Regions from separate parts of the Homo sapiens genome. Here region 2 is linked to region 1. The links come from fine-mapping of genetic effects on gene expression. A gene starts in region 1. The other region holds a variant in brackets. All regions are shown on one strand. Distances are between the middles of the regions. Region 1 holds the start of OTUD3 (OTU deubiquitinase 3). Region 2 overlaps OTUD3 (OTU deubiquitinase 3).

Evidence for each region. PIP is the estimated chance that this variant, and not a neighbour inherited with it, causes the effect.
Region 2: its variant is fine-mapped to the expression of OTUD3 in whole blood (TOPMed, PIP 0.98).

The regions. Positions count from the first base shown.
Region 1 is chr1:19,877,657-19,885,656 of GRCh38, forward strand. It overlaps OTUD3 (OTU deubiquitinase 3), which reads left to right and starts at 4,739. Exons shown (of 8, transcript NM_015207.2): 1 at 4,739-5,078. The coding sequence starts at 4,858. All of the region lies in intron 1 of LOC105376823 (a long non-coding RNA gene), which reads right to left. RefSeq lists an enhancer at 4,523-4,572 and a silencer at 4,943-5,282.
Region 2 is chr1:19,909,900-19,917,899 of GRCh38, forward strand. OTUD3 (OTU deubiquitinase 3) reads left to right here. Exons shown (of 8, transcript NM_015207.2): 8 at 1-3,046. Among named protein-coding and RNA genes, the nearest start is that of PLA2G2E, 9.7 kb to the right of the region's middle. The variant T/C (reference allele first, on the strand shown) is at 4,198.

The DNA.
Region 1 (8,000 bases):
CTGAGCACATTGGGAAGCTGAGGCGGGAGCAGCCTGGGCAACATAGTAAGACCTCGTCTCTATAAAAATTAAACAGAAAATTAGCGGGCCGTGGTGGCTTGCGCCTGTAGTCCCAGCTACTAGGGAGGCTGAAGCAGGAGGATGGCTTGAGCCTGGGGGGGTGGAGGTTGCAGTGGGCCGTGATGGCGCCACTGCACACCTGTTTAGGAGACAGAGCAAGACCCTGTCTCAAAAAAACAAAAAAGTAAAAAACACACCCCTAGGTGGTTTTATATGCTAAGGATACACGTTATGCGTGTTAGAGCACGTCGATGCTAAGCGCATGTGCCAACTGCAGGTCTGTCTTTGCATGTTTGACCTCAGCAGTATTTCATGAATATGCATGTACAGCTCCCATAAAGGGAATTCCCCGTAAGGTACTAGGGGCTGCCTCTCCCTTTTAGCAGCCTGCTTTGCCTCTCAGAGTGTACTTTTGAAGCAGCTACACTGTCTGGGGTATATACCCTGGGGTTCGTCATCTCGCACCAGGAAAATTTAGCTCACGGACACACACGAGGAGTTTAGGAGCTGAGGTTTAATAGGCAGAAGAGAAGAGAAAGAGCAACAGCTCTTTCAGGAGAGAGAGGTGTCTCCGAGTGGAAAAGAACTGTTGGTAGTGATGCACTGGATTTTATAGTCTAGCTTGAGGAGGCGGTGTCTGATTTACATAGGGCTCACAGATTGGTTCAATCAGGTGTGACATTTACATAGCAGGGAAGGCTGGTTCCCCACCCTAATCTTATTATGCAAATAAATTATCCTTGGCAGGCTATCTTGTCTGCTCCTTACTGTACACGTGGCTGGCAGAGAAGAGGCGATGAAGCCGCCATCTTGAACATGTCTAGTCGGTAGTTCCCTGTGGCATTTACCCGTGCAAGCTCCCAGCTTGTTTGTGTCTGCAGCTCCACTTTACAGGCTACTCTGTTAGAAGATGATTTGGGGCTGCTTTTCATTAAAAAGAAAAGCCTTACCGAGGACTCCCATGCCCTTACTATCTGCCTACGCGATTTCTTCTTAACTCCTGTATCACTTTTGCTTTGCAATAAACTTCTTTGCCTGCTCTTTGGAGTACTTTGGACTCACTCTCAAATTCTTTTACGTGGCTAAGTCAAGAACCTGAACGGGCCAACTGCCAACACTTGGACATACCTTCTAGTGCACGTGCATGTAATTTGCTTTAGGACTATCTGCGTCTGAGAGTGTACTTTTGAAGGAGCTACATTGTCCGGAGTATATACCCTGGGGTTCATCGTCTTGCACGAGGAAAATTTAGAATACGGATACACACGAGGAGTTTAGGAGGAGATGTAATATTTCTATTTTTAGGATAGATCACGAGATGTAGACACTAGACATTTAAAATGTTACCAGATACAGGCCAGGTGCAGTGGTTCATGCCTCTAATCCCAGCACAGTAAGAGGCTGAGGCACGCGGATCACCTGAGATCAGGAGTTCGAGACCAGACTGGCCAACATGGTGAAACCTCGCCTCTACTAAAAATACAAAAAAAAAAAAAAAAAAATTAGCTGGGCATGGTGGTGTGTGCCTGTATTCCCAGCTGCTCTGGAGGCTGAAGCAGGAGAATCTCTGACAATCTCTTCAGCCCGGGAGGCAGAGGTTGCAGTAAGCCGAGATCATACCACGGCACTCCAGCCTGGGCAACAGAACAAGACTCCATCTCAAAACAAACAAACAAACAAAAAAACAAAAAAAACCCCAAAGTTACCAGATACAGTCCAAATTGCCCTCCAAAGTGGCTAGATAAATTTACCTCCCAACAGCAGTGTGCGAGAGTTCTCATTTTCCCATACCCTTGATGGTATGTTCTTGAAAGTCCTAAAGCTGCATTTCTTCACTAAAATTCTGTTAGTCACACTTTTTACTAATTTATACTGCCATCCAATGAGGTTTGATTACTATTATTATTATTTTTGAGACAGGGTCTTGCTCTGTCACCTAGGCTGGAGTGCAGTGGCACAGTCATACCTCACTGCAGCCTCAAACTCCCAGGTTCAAGTGATCCTCCAACTTCAGCCCCTCCCGAATAGCTGGGACTACAGGCATGCATCACCATGCCCAGCTAATTAAAATTTTTTTGCAGAGATGGGGAATCTCACTTTGTTGCCCAGGCAGATCTTGAACTCCTGGGCTCAAGCAATACCCCCACTTTGGCCTCCCAAAGTCCTGGGATTACAGGCATGAGCCACTGTGCGGGTCAATGATTCTTTTAATTAACTCTAGCGAAGTGGGCAGAGCATTCATTTTATTTACAAGTACTATACTCCTTCCCTTTGGCCTTTAAATATAATTTATAGGCAGCATTGATTTGCACTTAGAGACACTGTCTAACACAGGTCTCCGCTGAGAAGAGAAATTCGCCCATTCAAAATCTGTGTGTGGGCTAAAGGCTAAGGGCTTATGCCAGAAAAGATTTTTTGTTTGTGTTTTTGTTTTTGTTTTGAGAAGGAGTTTCACTCTTGTTGCCCAGACTGGAGTGCAATGGCGCAATCTCGGCTCACTGCAACCTTTGCCTCCCGGGTTCAAGCGATTCTCCTGCCTCAGCCTCCCCAGTAGCTGGGATTACAGGCTGGCCTCGAACTCCTCACCTCAGGTGATCCGCCCGCCTCCACCTCCCAAAGTGTTGGGATTACAAGCGTGAGCCACACGCCCAGCCAAAAAGATTTTTACAAGACGGGCAAGTGTTCGCTTTTCTATCAATATGTTAGCAGTCTGTATTTACTTATTTGCTGGTGAGAAACCTTTCTTCCCTGGTTTCTAAAGTTTGAAAGTCTTTGCCCCTGAGCTCATGAGATTTCCAGAGAACTGATTCAAACAACTTCATTAAATAGGTACTTACTTCATGCCTGGGGCTTTACATTTTTATTTAATCTTTACAACTCTCTTTTGCATTCTTATTGTCATCAGAAAAATGCAAATCAAAATCACGATGAAATACCATCTCATGCCAGTTAGAATGGCTTTTGTTAAAAAGAAAAAATAGCAGATGTTGCTGAGGCTGTGGGGAAAAGGGGAACATTTTTACACTGTTGGTGGGAATGTAAATTAGTTCAGCCACTGTGGAGAGCAGTTTGGAGATTTCTCAAAGAACTAAAAATTGAACTACCACTCGACCCAGCAATCTCATTACTGGGTCTATACTCAAAGGAATATATATCGTTCTATCAAAAAGACAGATGCACCCGTATGTTCACTGCAGCACTATTCACAATAGCAAAGACATAGAATCAACCCAGGTACGCATCAACAGTGGATTAGATAAAGAAAATGTGGTATATATACACCATGGAATACTATGCAGCCATAAAAAAGAACAAAATCATGTCCAGGAAGAGGGGAGAACAGCAACATGGATACAGCTGGAAACCATTATCCTAAGTGAACTAAGGCAGAAACAGAAAACCAAATACTGCACGTTCTTATAAGTGGGAGCTAAACATTGGATACACATGGACACAAAGATGGGAACAATAGACTCTGGGGAATACAAGAGTCGGGAGGCAGTTGGGGGAAAGGGTTGAAAAACTACCTATTGTGTATTGTGTACTTTGCTCACTACCTGGGTGACAGATTCATTTGTACTCCAAACCTCAGCCTCACGCAATATAGATGGGGTTTCACCATCTTGGCCAGCTGGCCAGGCTGGTCTCGAACTCCTGACCTCAGGCGATCCCCTGGCCTCGGCTTCCCAAAGTGTTGGGATTACAGGCGTGGGCCACTGCACCTGGCCTCAGTTTTTGTTTTTGTTTTTTTGTTTGTTTGTTTTTTGAGATGGAGTCTCGCTCTGTCCCCCAGGCTGGAGTGCAGTGGTGCAATCTCGGCTCACTGCAAGCTCCGCTTCCCGGGTTCATGCCATTCTCCTGCCTCAGCCTCCCGAGTAGCTGGGACTACAGGCGCCCGCCACCACGCCCGGCTAATTTTTGTATTTTTAGTAGAGACGGGGTTTCACAGTGTTAGCCAGGATGGTCTCCATCTCCTGACTTTGTGGTCAGCCCGCCTCGGCCTCCCAAAGTGCTGGGATTACAGGTGTGAGCCATCACGCCCAGCCTGGTCTGTCTCAGTTTTAAAACGGAAAGTCCTGCATCCCAAGAAAACCTCTAGTCCAGGCAAACCTAGGTGGGTCGCTCTAGGATGGAATTAGGATTTCCAGTGGTCTTGGACAGAAGGGCGACCTCTCCCTTGAGTTACGAAGGAAGGCGGAGAGATGAAGGGCAGGATTAAATAAACAAGTATGCGGGCTTTGGAGCCAGGGCAAAGCTCTGCCTTTTAGCTGTGTGATCTTGAAATTATTTAACCACTCAGATTCAGTTTCCTGTAATTTGGGGATAATTAAACAAGAATGAGCCGTGTGAAAGTGCCTATCCAACTGTAGTAGGCTCGCAGCAAGAGTTTAAATCGTTTTTATTCATCTCCGGTCCTAACTTTTGCCGCTGCTCTGTGTTCCACTCTTCTATCATCTTTAATTTCTCTGCTTGACTTGTTCCTGCTTTGTTCTCTCTGGTCCCTCTCCGGTCGCTCCTGCCACTCACGTTGAGTACCATCCACCACTAGAGGGCGGAATAGAACAAACCAAGATGGGTGCCCCTCCAGCTCTCTATGGCGTCTGCTCGCCGAGCCCCGCAAAAGAGGCGGGGATTCCATCATGTGACCGGGGTGCTGGGCGCCGGCGCAGGCGCGGTTGCTGCGTAGTCGTCGCCGGGCTCCGTTGCCCGCGCTGTTTTACCTTCCCAACGCTTGAGGCGGACGCTGGGGGGTCCTGCGCCTTTCCCTCCTGCCGCTGGGGACTGCAGGCTAAGGCCATGTCCCGAAAGCAGGCGGCGAAGAGCCGGCCGGGCAGCGGCAGCCGGAAAGCCGAGGCCGAGCGCAAGCGGGACGAGCGGGCGGCGCGCCGGGCCCTGGCCAAGGAGCGGCGGAATCGGCCGGAGTCTGGCGGCGGCGGCGGCTGCGAGGAGGAGTTCGTCAGCTTCGCCAACCAGCTGCAGGCCCTGGGGCTGAAGCTGCGGGAGGTGCCGGGGGACGGGTGAGGCGGGCCGGGAGCGAGGGAGGCGGCGCCGGGGGACGCGCCGGGCTCGGCCTGGCGACCGTTGCCCGCTCGCGTCCATCCATCCATTCATTCGGGCGGCCCGGGCGCCTCCCGCGAGCCAGCCACGCTCCGAGTGCAGGGCGTCCAGCTGCGAGTGAGGCGGACAAGCCCCTCGCCCCGAGACGCTCGCGGGGATCCCAAAGGGTCCTAATCATGGCAGACGCCGCGAGCGAAATAGAAAGTGGGTGCTGAGACCGTATATGGGAGCAGGGCCACTGGATTGTGGCCAGGAAGGGCTCTCTCAAAGGTGACATTTAAGCTGAGTTCTGAAGGAATGAGATGGAGCCAGGCATTGGAAAAACAGTTATCATGACGATAAGACCAGTTGAAGGAGTTTGAGTAAGCCCCACTTGGTAGAACGCTTTGCCTCCTTTGAGTCCTTGGTTTTTGGGTGGTGCCCCCATTTACATTTGTGAAATTAGGTCGCCTGTTTACTGAGCTGAAGGCAGCTTCTCTAATTCTTCCTTCCATGGGCCTCAGTTTCTCTGTAAGCAAAGGTGCTTCCCCAAGCTTTCTTGGGACTTAGACTGGATCCAGGTCCAGCTTTCTTTAGGGAACGCGGAGGGGGAGAGTGGGGAGGAGGAAGAAAATTAGCTTCAAGAAAGGGGATATGGCTCCAGGAACATGGATGGAAGAAGGAAAAGGGTCAGGAAGAGGGGAGAACAGTTAGGATCCCCATTGCAGGGGCAGGTAAAAAGGGGTCTGGTTGTCAGCTGTGTCACTTTGGAAGAGAGAGTGTTAATAACAGCCTGGCTTTTGTTTTTTTCCTCCCCGTATTTGAGTGCTCAGATCCTGCAGAGGGAAGACTAAAATGAAATTAAAGACCATAAGGAATTGCCTTAGTTCATTATTATTGTTATTTTGTAGAGACGGTGATTTTGCTGTGTTGCCCAGGCTGGTCTCGAACTCCTGGCTTCAAGCGATCCTCCTGCCTCGGCCTCCCAAAGTGCCTAGATTACAGGCATGAGCTACCACCCCCGGCCAGGAATTGCCTTAGATATTAACTGCAGAATAAGGTGTTTTAAAAATTTTCACATTACATTGCAGCTTATTGATTAAGACTGTGAACTGGTCCTAATTTCCCTTTCCCACCGTTCCTGTTTATGCTCATTGCTTCAGGCAGATTGGATTTCTTTTTGCTCACAAAGAGTTCACCACACTTTGCTGCGTTGCTGTTTTTGCTTAAGATGCAGTTGGAACTTGATTACATTTATTCACCATCATCTGGCAAAGTGCTTGGTACATGGAAGGCAGTCAGTACGTTTTTGCTGAATGAAATATAAAAATAATAGAGGGAGGTCAGCTAGCCTAAGCATAAGCCCAAGACACCCTTATAGAAACAGAAATACCAATTGAATACAGTGGAATTGGCGTGGGACATTGGGGCTTTTCCTTGCAAATGATTGGATTGCTTGTGTCTGCTATACTGGGTATGGTATTCTCAATGTCAGGGTGCCCAGGAAACTGAAGTACTCAATAGAAGGTTACTTATGAGGAGGAATTAGCACAGGGAGTTGTAAACTCTTGAGGGGGCTTTCATAAGGTTATGGGAAACTTTGGGGGTACTACTTCTGCTCCCTATCCCCACACCCCCATACACACACAGCATACTTTTCAAGTTAATTCAGCACACCTTAAGTAGGGTGCTGGGAATATGTTGATGACTAAGATACTTAAGGACTTCATAGCCTAAGGTAGAAACACGTAACAGTGGGTCTCAGCTTTTTTGGTCTTAAGATCTCTTGGCATTCTTAAAAATTACTGAGAAACCGAAAGAACTTTATATGGGTTATAGCTATGAGTATTTACTGTATTAGAAAGTAAAACAAAGTTAAAACACAAGAATACACACACATTCCATTAGCTATCAGAGTGATGACTTCATGCATCAGGTAGCCTCTGGAAAACTCCACTGCACTTGTGAGAGAATGAGAATGAAAAAGGTACATTACATCTTAGTTTTGAACTCACGGATACCCTGAAAGCATATCAGAGACCTTCCCACATCTCCGGTCCCTTGAGTCACACTTTGAGAACAGATGATACAAATAATTAAAATATAGTTTGATATATTTTTAGTAACAGTGACTGATTATAATGGTACTATTGAGAAGGAAAAGGCTACTACTCTATGAATTGGCCAGGAAGTCCTTCTCGTTCATTCGGTAAATACTCATTGGATACACTGCTAGATGCCTCTCAGAGGGTGTCATGCTCTGATTGGGTCATGAAGGACCAATAGGAGTACACCAAGAGAACGGTCCCATCTGAGAAGGAGTATATATAGAGGCACAAGGACACGATGTTTTTGGGAGATCTACAGGTTGTTTAGGGTGACGGGTAGTGTAGGGCACAAGGGTAGAAGTAACGGGCAGTGAAGCTAGGCTCCAGAAACCAGCTTGACTGGAGTGCTCATGTCTCTCTTCCAAGGTTCCTGTTATTCGGACAGTGTTAGATAAAATGATCGTATTTCCTCTTGTGTGGGCTTCATGGAGCTAACCACCTTCTGTTCACAAGTTCTTCACATGAGTTCCATTAGCTGGACTGTGGTTCAGCCCTCGTCAGTATCCTAGTCCTTTCGAATGTGGTGATGACAGACTTTATCACTGCAGGGGATGGTGTTTCCTGTGTATGTGATGGGTTGGCAGGTGTCAACAGATTCTTCTACCCCCCTCAGACGGAGTCTTACTCTGCCACCCAGGCTGGAGTGCAGTGGCACAATCTTGGCTCACTGCAATCTCTGCCTCCTGGGTTCAAACAATTCTCTTGCCTCAGCCTCCTGAGTAGCTGGGATTACAGGCACCTGCTACCACAGCCAGCTAATTTGTTTGTATTTTTAGTAGAGATGGGGTTTCACCA
Region 2 (8,000 bases), 32 kb after region 1:
CAAACGGCTTTAGTAATTTTACTACTGGTTTCACAGCTTTTCAGTTACAGTTGGTCTGTTTAGTGTGTTAATTATTAGGAATCGGGTACATGCATCCAACTTCAGTGATACCTTCTAGCTAATGGTTTCAATTTAGACTTCACTGCCTCAGTCTCACTGGGTACATGAGAAGGTTGGAATCAACATGCTTAGTTGCCTCAGTGGGCACTTGAAAATTCCTTCACTGGCAGCCCGAGTGGAGGCCCAGTATGTCTAGTCCTGGGATGACTGTTGTCAGCAGCTGTTACTCTAGTACAGGTGCTCCTGTGAACTCTTTATTAGGAACTGAATGTGTCTTAACCTCTGTGTTACATCTTGGCTGGCAGAGATTTATGTTACATGAGATTGTCTTGGTAGCTTGTAGTGTGGTCAGGAGAAAGGGGATGGAGCAGTGGTGCATAGCTGCTTACTGCTCTTATAAACGGTATATAAAGGTTTTACGGATTTTGAAAATATTTTTTTTTAGAGGTCAAAATAAATACCATTTTAGTGGCAACAGCTTTGAACTAGAGAGGTAGATGTATTAAAGCAGCATAGAACCATAACTTCTAGATAATGTAGTTGCCACTAGGAGATATTAGAAAGTTAGAATGTATGTGTGTATTTAGTTTTTCAATAATAATGAACATACACTTTCAGGAGCAAAGTATGGTTGAGAAATTGTGGCAGAAAGAATTTTAAATGTTAGTCGAAGTTGTCTGTAGTTTCTTTATTAAGCTCTGAAAACACTTCCAATGCCAGTTTGATTCTGAGGGCTTGGGAAGTGGGATCTCCCTTGTGGAGCAGCTGGAGCTGGCTGGGAGGGAGCCTCTCCATGGGTAATTTATTATGCCTGCCCTGCTTCCCCCAGGGAGCTGCTTCAGTGTGAAATGATGTGATTGTCGGGGGTGGGGTGGGAGGAGGGCCACCTTCAGTCGGGGAGTTGCTCACATATTACACAGGTAGCATCAGGTGGACTTCAGCGCTGAACTGTACTAGTAGTGAGTCCCTGTAGTCAATGTGCAATTTCTCTAATTCTGAGAAACTCTGTAGACTCTGCCTGGGTTTTACTGGGTCAGCATAGAATGCTATCAGTTTACCTCTGTGAAATATTCAGTCAGTTGAAGGAAACTTGGATTCCTAGTCAGAGGTGACTAAAAGTTACCCTGACCAAAAGGATCTCTGCGGGGGGAAGAGAATGGAGCTTCCTGATTTTAATGTGTTGCGTCAGTGGCCCTCTTCGACTCCCGTTTTGGGTAGATGCGTAGCTCTTCACTTTCTTACCTCAAGGCTCTGTCTAGCCATGTTAAATCTTTAGACTCAGTCTGATGCCGTTTTTCTGTTTTGCCATTCTCATTATTCACAGCTTTCAGAACAAGTGTTGCTAAAACTCCGGGGCCTTTGACAGTTGTTCTGAGGTGATTTAATAATGGACTTTTTATAAGTTATGTTTTCCTGGCTCTAAAGTAAATTTTTTTTTTTTTTTTTTTGAGACAGAGTCTTGCTTTGTTGCCCAGGCTGGAGTGTGGTGGGGCAATCTCGGCTCACTGCAACCTCCACCTCCCGGGTTCAAGCGATTCTCCTGCCTCAGCCTCCTGAGTAGCTGGGATTACAGGTGTGTGCCACCATGCTTGGCTAATTTTTGTATTTTTAGTAGAGACGGGGTTTCACCATGTTAGCCAGGCTGGTCTCAAACTCCTGACCTTGTGATCTGCCCGCCTCAGCCTCCCAAAGTGCTAGGATTACGGGTGTGAGCAACCCTGCCCGGCCAGTAAATTGTATTTTTTTAATGACATCATTGATTTGAAGATCTAGATGGCATAAATTACGACGTCTGCCATCGCATATTAGAAAGGGGACAGTCATATTTGTAACGTGGAGAGAACACGGAGCACCAGTCACCACGTGCACTTAGGATGCAGAGCTTACCGCACACCGCTGATGGGGACCTCCGGAAAGAGCGGTGCCTTGTGGTTGGCCTGGAAGTTCTCTCCCAAGGTGAAATTCCTTTAAAACCTCAGGCTCTGACCTATGTCTTTGAAGCAGCTGCTTTGTAGAGTCCCTCTCTTTACTGTCCTCGTTAGGACTGTTTTGTGGTTCCATGAAAATGTTTAGCATCCTTGCAGAATTACTTGAGAAGGGGCTGGTACCAGTGTAAAGAATCTATTTCTGTAAAACTACGAACTTTTGCATAGGGAATTTATTCTAAGCAGGTCATAGCCGTGATCCAGAGCTGCTGCTGCTCACTGCCAGTCCTTGCGGCTGGCGGCGATTGCCGGACAGACTCTCTGTGGCCTGGCTCTCATCCTTGGCGTGTCAGCCTGCGGCAGGCTGCCAGCCATCCATGACAATCATGTGAGCTCAGCCACAGACCTCAGCTGGCGGTTTGATCCCTGGCAGGTCCCTCGAGCAGTACTGGTAAGAGGCTTCACACATTTTCCCACTCTTACAGTTCATTTTTCATAGTAGGAAGGGCCCTTGGCCTCCCCAGTGCCTCTTCCAGAGCCTCCACCAGCACTAAGCTCAGAGGAAAGAAGAAAAGGGCCAGGAGTCAGACGTCACACCCGGGGGCTCCCCTTTCCCATGTAGAAGTGTTGGCATGCGTCAGTCTCCTTTACAGAGGGGTGGATGTATCCGTGGAGGAGGGGCCTTCTCTCTTTCTAATTGCACTATACTTGTTCTAGCTTCAGTCTGGAGATACTTAAGACCTCCATGGGGTCGTGATCCATAGACTTAGCAAGTCTTGCCTTATCTATGGAGCTCGATGGTGAGAATTGTGACCATTGTCTGATGTCCATAGTTCCTTCCCCCTAGATTGTTTCTTTCCACGGATTGTGTTCATCTGAACCATTTTATTTTTTATTTACCAAAGTACTGTACTTGGCTATTTGCAGTGTTTTCAAAACCAAATGTTTCTTTTTTTGTGTTTTTAATCTTCGATACTTGGTGCAATAGAAGCTGCAAAGATGTGCCACTTTATCTATGAAATGGAGTTTTGTATACCAATAAATTCTAGTTTAAAAACAAAGTTTTAAGTTGTTTTTATCAGTATCTGACCACCGTTTGAGTGAATGCAAGGAGGCTGAGTGTGCTGGGAAATGTCCTTTTTGGAGACCTTTGTGTGGAAGCTTTGCGTGTTTGCGTGTGCTGGATTGAGTATTCTAGGTGTATAATAGTACTTTGGGATCTGACTAAGCTTAGAACAGCTGATTTTTGCTTTAGTGCAGCTAAATGCAGCCACCAAACACAATGGCAGGGTCATTCTTAAGGACTACACACTTAAGATTTCTGCCTGATATCTGAGAGCATCTCTTGATAAGTTTGAAACTGTTTAAATATGTAGCAGTTGTCTGTCAGCGGCCACTTTGGGCTCCTCTAGAACTCTCAAGATTGTTTGACCCCATTCAAGGAGGAGGCTCCCTGCCAAGGCACAGACAGTACCATCTGGGGGCACAACTCACCTAGAAGGGTCCACAGGAAACCAGAGCGAAGGGAGTCCTTCATTGCGTCCAGCAGGGGCCCCATCCACACAAGGGCTCTGGCTCGGCAGACCTCACCATGTCATGATTTTGACCTTGAGACTCCCATTCTCCCATTCTTCATTTTGTATTCAACAAGCAGCCTTCTGAATTGGCTCCCTGTTGCCTTGACACAAAAAAGGACTAGATGGTTTTCTGGATGAAAGTCAAGAATATTCTAGCTTCTGCAAGCAGATTCTCCCACAATCTCTCAAGTGATCTTCTCTGTGTGATTCTTCTTCAGTCCACAACTGAGAGACCCATCATCTCTGGATAGACACACACTGTCTGGTTCCTGAGCCTGTGAGGCCCAGATTCCAGACCCCATTTAACCTGAGATTCTTCCAGGAAATCTGCTATGGTCCAAAGTGATGTCCCAATCCAGGTGCTGCCCGCACACTGGAAAACTTCCATGGCCTCCTTAATCCCATTCCAGGGATTCAGCTGGGGCCAGGTGGCTGCTGCTAGGGATTAGAGGGGCTTCCTGTTTGGGCAGCGTTGGACCAGGTGACCTGTAAGATCCTGTGTGGGAGATAGGATGAGTCTTTAAGGACAGAGAAGTGTTCTTGAGCCAGGTAGGGACAAGTGGCTGTGCCTTTGTCCCTTCTTGGTAACCGCTCATGGTCACCTTGGAGAAAGCCTGGCTGAAAACCTGGGTGTT[T/C]AGAGTTGCATCAGCGAGTCACCACCCCAGGCTTCTGGCCTTTCCCTTCCTCCAATGCACAGAAACAAGAGTGTGTGTCTTGAGACACAGTTCATAAAAAGCTCTGCTCCAATATGGTTTTGGCTGGACAGAATGGTTTTTGCTGATGGAATGGGCACTCTCAGACCATTGAGATGCAGAGATTTAGAACTTGGTTGCAAAGGCTTGAGGCCAGTCCTGTCACTTCACAGATTCTGGCTTGGCAGAAGGAAACATTTCCTATCTTCTTGGAGAAACTTGTCTGAACCTCCCTATGGTAGAAGGACTTGGGTATCCCCAGAGGATTGTTTCTGTTCAATTTATTCATCTAAACATCCAAGAATCCATCTGACATCTAGTGAACCTCTACTCTGTATGGGTCCTTATTTCTGGGCATTGAAACAGTCATGGATCCTGCCTTCAAAAAGCCTCCAGTCCGGGAATGAAAGTGGACACGTCACTGACCCAGGAGAGAGCACATGCCATAAAGGAGGTACTGATGAGAGGGCTGTGAGTTCAGAGAATTCGGGAAGGCTTGGTGGAGGAAGTGAGATTTGGACGAGGCACGAAAGGGGAGACAGGATACAGAAATAGGGAGCGAAGACATGTTGGACTGAATGGCCAGCGCAAGCAAAACCTAGGAGTGGGATGGGTATGCTCCAGTGTTTAGGACAGAGCTTATTATGGATGTATAATCAGTTTGGAGAAAGACTGGGAACTTCTTGAAACACCTCTCATGTGCCTTTCACTACTGGAAGAGTAGTGCTGTGCTTGCTGAATGGATTCTCAAGATCAGGCCTGGGTGCAGTGGCTGACATCTGTAATCCCTGCACTTTGGGAGGCTGGGGCAGGAGGCTTGCTCACACTCAGGAGTTCAAGACCAGTTTGGTCAATCTAGCGAGATCCCGTCTCTATGCATGCACACACAAAATTACTGGGGTTTGGGGCTGGGTGCCTGTCTGTAGTCCCTCCTACTCAGGAGGCTGAGGCAGGAGGATCACTTGAGCTCAGGAGTATTAGGCTGCAGTGAGCTTTATCACACCACAACACTCCAGCCTGGGTGACAGGGTGAGACCCTGTCTCAAAACCCCAAAACAACAAAGATCTGCCTGACGGCTTTTTAGTGTCTGGAGTTGGCCTGTGTGTGCATTCTAACCTGGCAATGTTACAGGTAGCGCCTGCCTGGAAAAATGCTGCACCATCTATCTCTGCCTTTGGGGGACATTAGCGCAGAATTCAATTGAACAGGTACCTGTTTAGCATCTACTGTGTGACATTTGCAATTGGAGAGCAAAAATACAGAAGGTGGCCAAGCGTAGATGGAGCAGCTAGCATGCCCCGGACACTTTGGATACATGGTCTCATTTGAACTTGAAAACCACCCTGTGAGGCTGATGGTTCTATTCAGGAATAAATAATTGTCCCAAGATCACAGCTTAGTAGCAGAGACAGGATTTGAACCCAGAGCAGTCTGCCGCCACCATGCAAGGACCCAAATAACGGGATAAGCAGTTCTAGGAAAGGTATAAACACAGCTTGGCAGTTCAAGGAGGGTGAAATCCGCTCCAATTGAAACAGCATCATAGAAAAGGTGACATTTGGGACTGGGCAGGGTGGCTTATCCCTGTAATCCCAACAGTTTGGGAGGCTGAGGCAGGAGGATTGCTTGAGGCCAGGAGTTTGAGACCAGCCTGGCAACATAGCGAGACCCGGTCTCTACCAAAAATAAGTAAGTTAGCCAGAATTGATGGCACACACCTGTTGTCCCAGCTACGTGGGAGGCTAAGGTGGGAGGCTTGCTTGAGTCGAGGAGGTTAAGGCTGCAGTGAACTATGATCGTGCCACTGCAGTCCAACCTGGGCAAGAGGGAGACCCTGTCTCTGAATATAAAGGAAGAGACGACATTTGGGATTCACTTTAAGCCCATGGATTTTAGCGTGGTGATGTGCCTGTGGGCAAGGGAGGCTTTTAGGTTGAGAGAAGCTACTGCACAAGGATATGAAGGCAGGACAGCAGAGGAGCTTAGTAAATAGATATTGCTGCATAAGAGGCTGGAAAAGCAGATGACACCAAGCCTGGAATACCAGGGGCTGGTGGACAATGGGGAGTCACTGATGGTTCAGGAGCAGAGGAGTGACATGATGAAAATCAGGCTCTGGGAAAATGAAGCTGGCATCAGTGGACAGGATGGAGATGTGATGAAGGATGGAGGGTTTAAGAACCATTAGTCCTGATACTCTCTTGTTAGGGGTGTCACATTACTTGCTAGTGTAGAATTATTGCTGTTTTCTGTCTGCTGGTTGACTCTGTCTGATTCGTGTCTATCTCCAGCATCCAGGAAAAGACCAGAAGCATAATTTGCATAAAACTTATTGAAGGAAAGAATTAACTTTAGTATTCAGTTCTCTGGTGGTGACATTGCAAAGAACCCCAGTGAAGCAGATGCATGTCCAGGAAATCCTAATCAGACTCCTCATTGAACTTGGGAATTCCACTGTGATTTCTGGTCACTAATTGAGGAAGGTCTTTACCTTTGCACTTCATGCATAGCTTTTGTTAGGTGCTAAATAGGAACAAAAGCAAAACCAATCCAAATCCTCTCATCAAAATTGGAGAGGCAAACTATGAAACATTTAGGTAAGAATGTCCCCTCCCCAGCTTTGACACAGTCCCGTTGCCTACTTTACTCATCCAATGAATTAGCACACATAAAGCACTTACAACAGTGCCTGGCAAATGCCTAGTGCACAGCAAGTGTTAGCTATTGTTAATGACTATCCATTCATTCATTCCTAGAACACGAGTGATTTTTCAGTGCTAGCCATTATTTGTACATTTTCATGCATGTTATCTCAAACTTTGCCATAACCAGCCTGCTGGGGAAATGTCATACTTCCATTTGACAAATGCAGAGACTGAGACTCCATTTATCAGCACTTAGATTTTAATGTGCACACGAATCATCAGGGGGGCTTGTTAACTTACAGATTCTGATTCAGCAGGTCTGGGGTCAGGTCCAAGATTCTGCATTTTGAACAGGATCCCTGCTGCTGCTTCTGCGGCTGCCCCTGCCCATGGACCACGTTGAATAGCAAAGGTCTAAGCAGAGCCACTGCTGCTAAAGCGGCAGAACAAAGCGCTCTACCTGGAACCTCCCAGTTCAAGTTCAGGCTTCTCCCTTCCTTTTTTTCAGTCTCTTTTGCAAGTCTGCTGCTGGGTATCAAGGGTTCTCTAGATACGCACACATAGGCAAACAGGATTTAAGCAGGCCCCTTGATCCCGTCATCAAACATTTATTGGCCAGGCGCGGTGGCTCACGCCTGTAATCCCAGCACTTTGGGAGGCCGAGGTAGGCGGATCACGAGGTCAGGAGATCGAGACCATCCTGACTAACACGGTGAAACCCCGTCTCTACTAAAAATACAAAAAATTAGCCAGGCATGTTGGCGGGCGCCTGTAGTCCCAGCTACTGGGGAGGCTGAGGCAGGAGAATGGCGTGAACCCGGGAGGCGGAGCTTGCAGTGAGCCGAGATCGTGCCACTGCACTCCATCCTGGGCGACAGAGCGAGACTCCGTCTCAAAAAAACAAAACAAAACAAAAAACCCAAAACATTTATCGAGCCCTGGGAAAGCAAAGAGTAAAGGCTGGTCTGTGGCCAAAAGACAGCTTGGTTTTGGTGGGTGGGGGTGGGTGAGTAGCAGGGGTCACAGCAGGCTGCGCTGGAATCTTGCTCCTAAGTTTCAATGTTTGTTTCGTCGGACAGTTATACAACTGTTAAGATCAT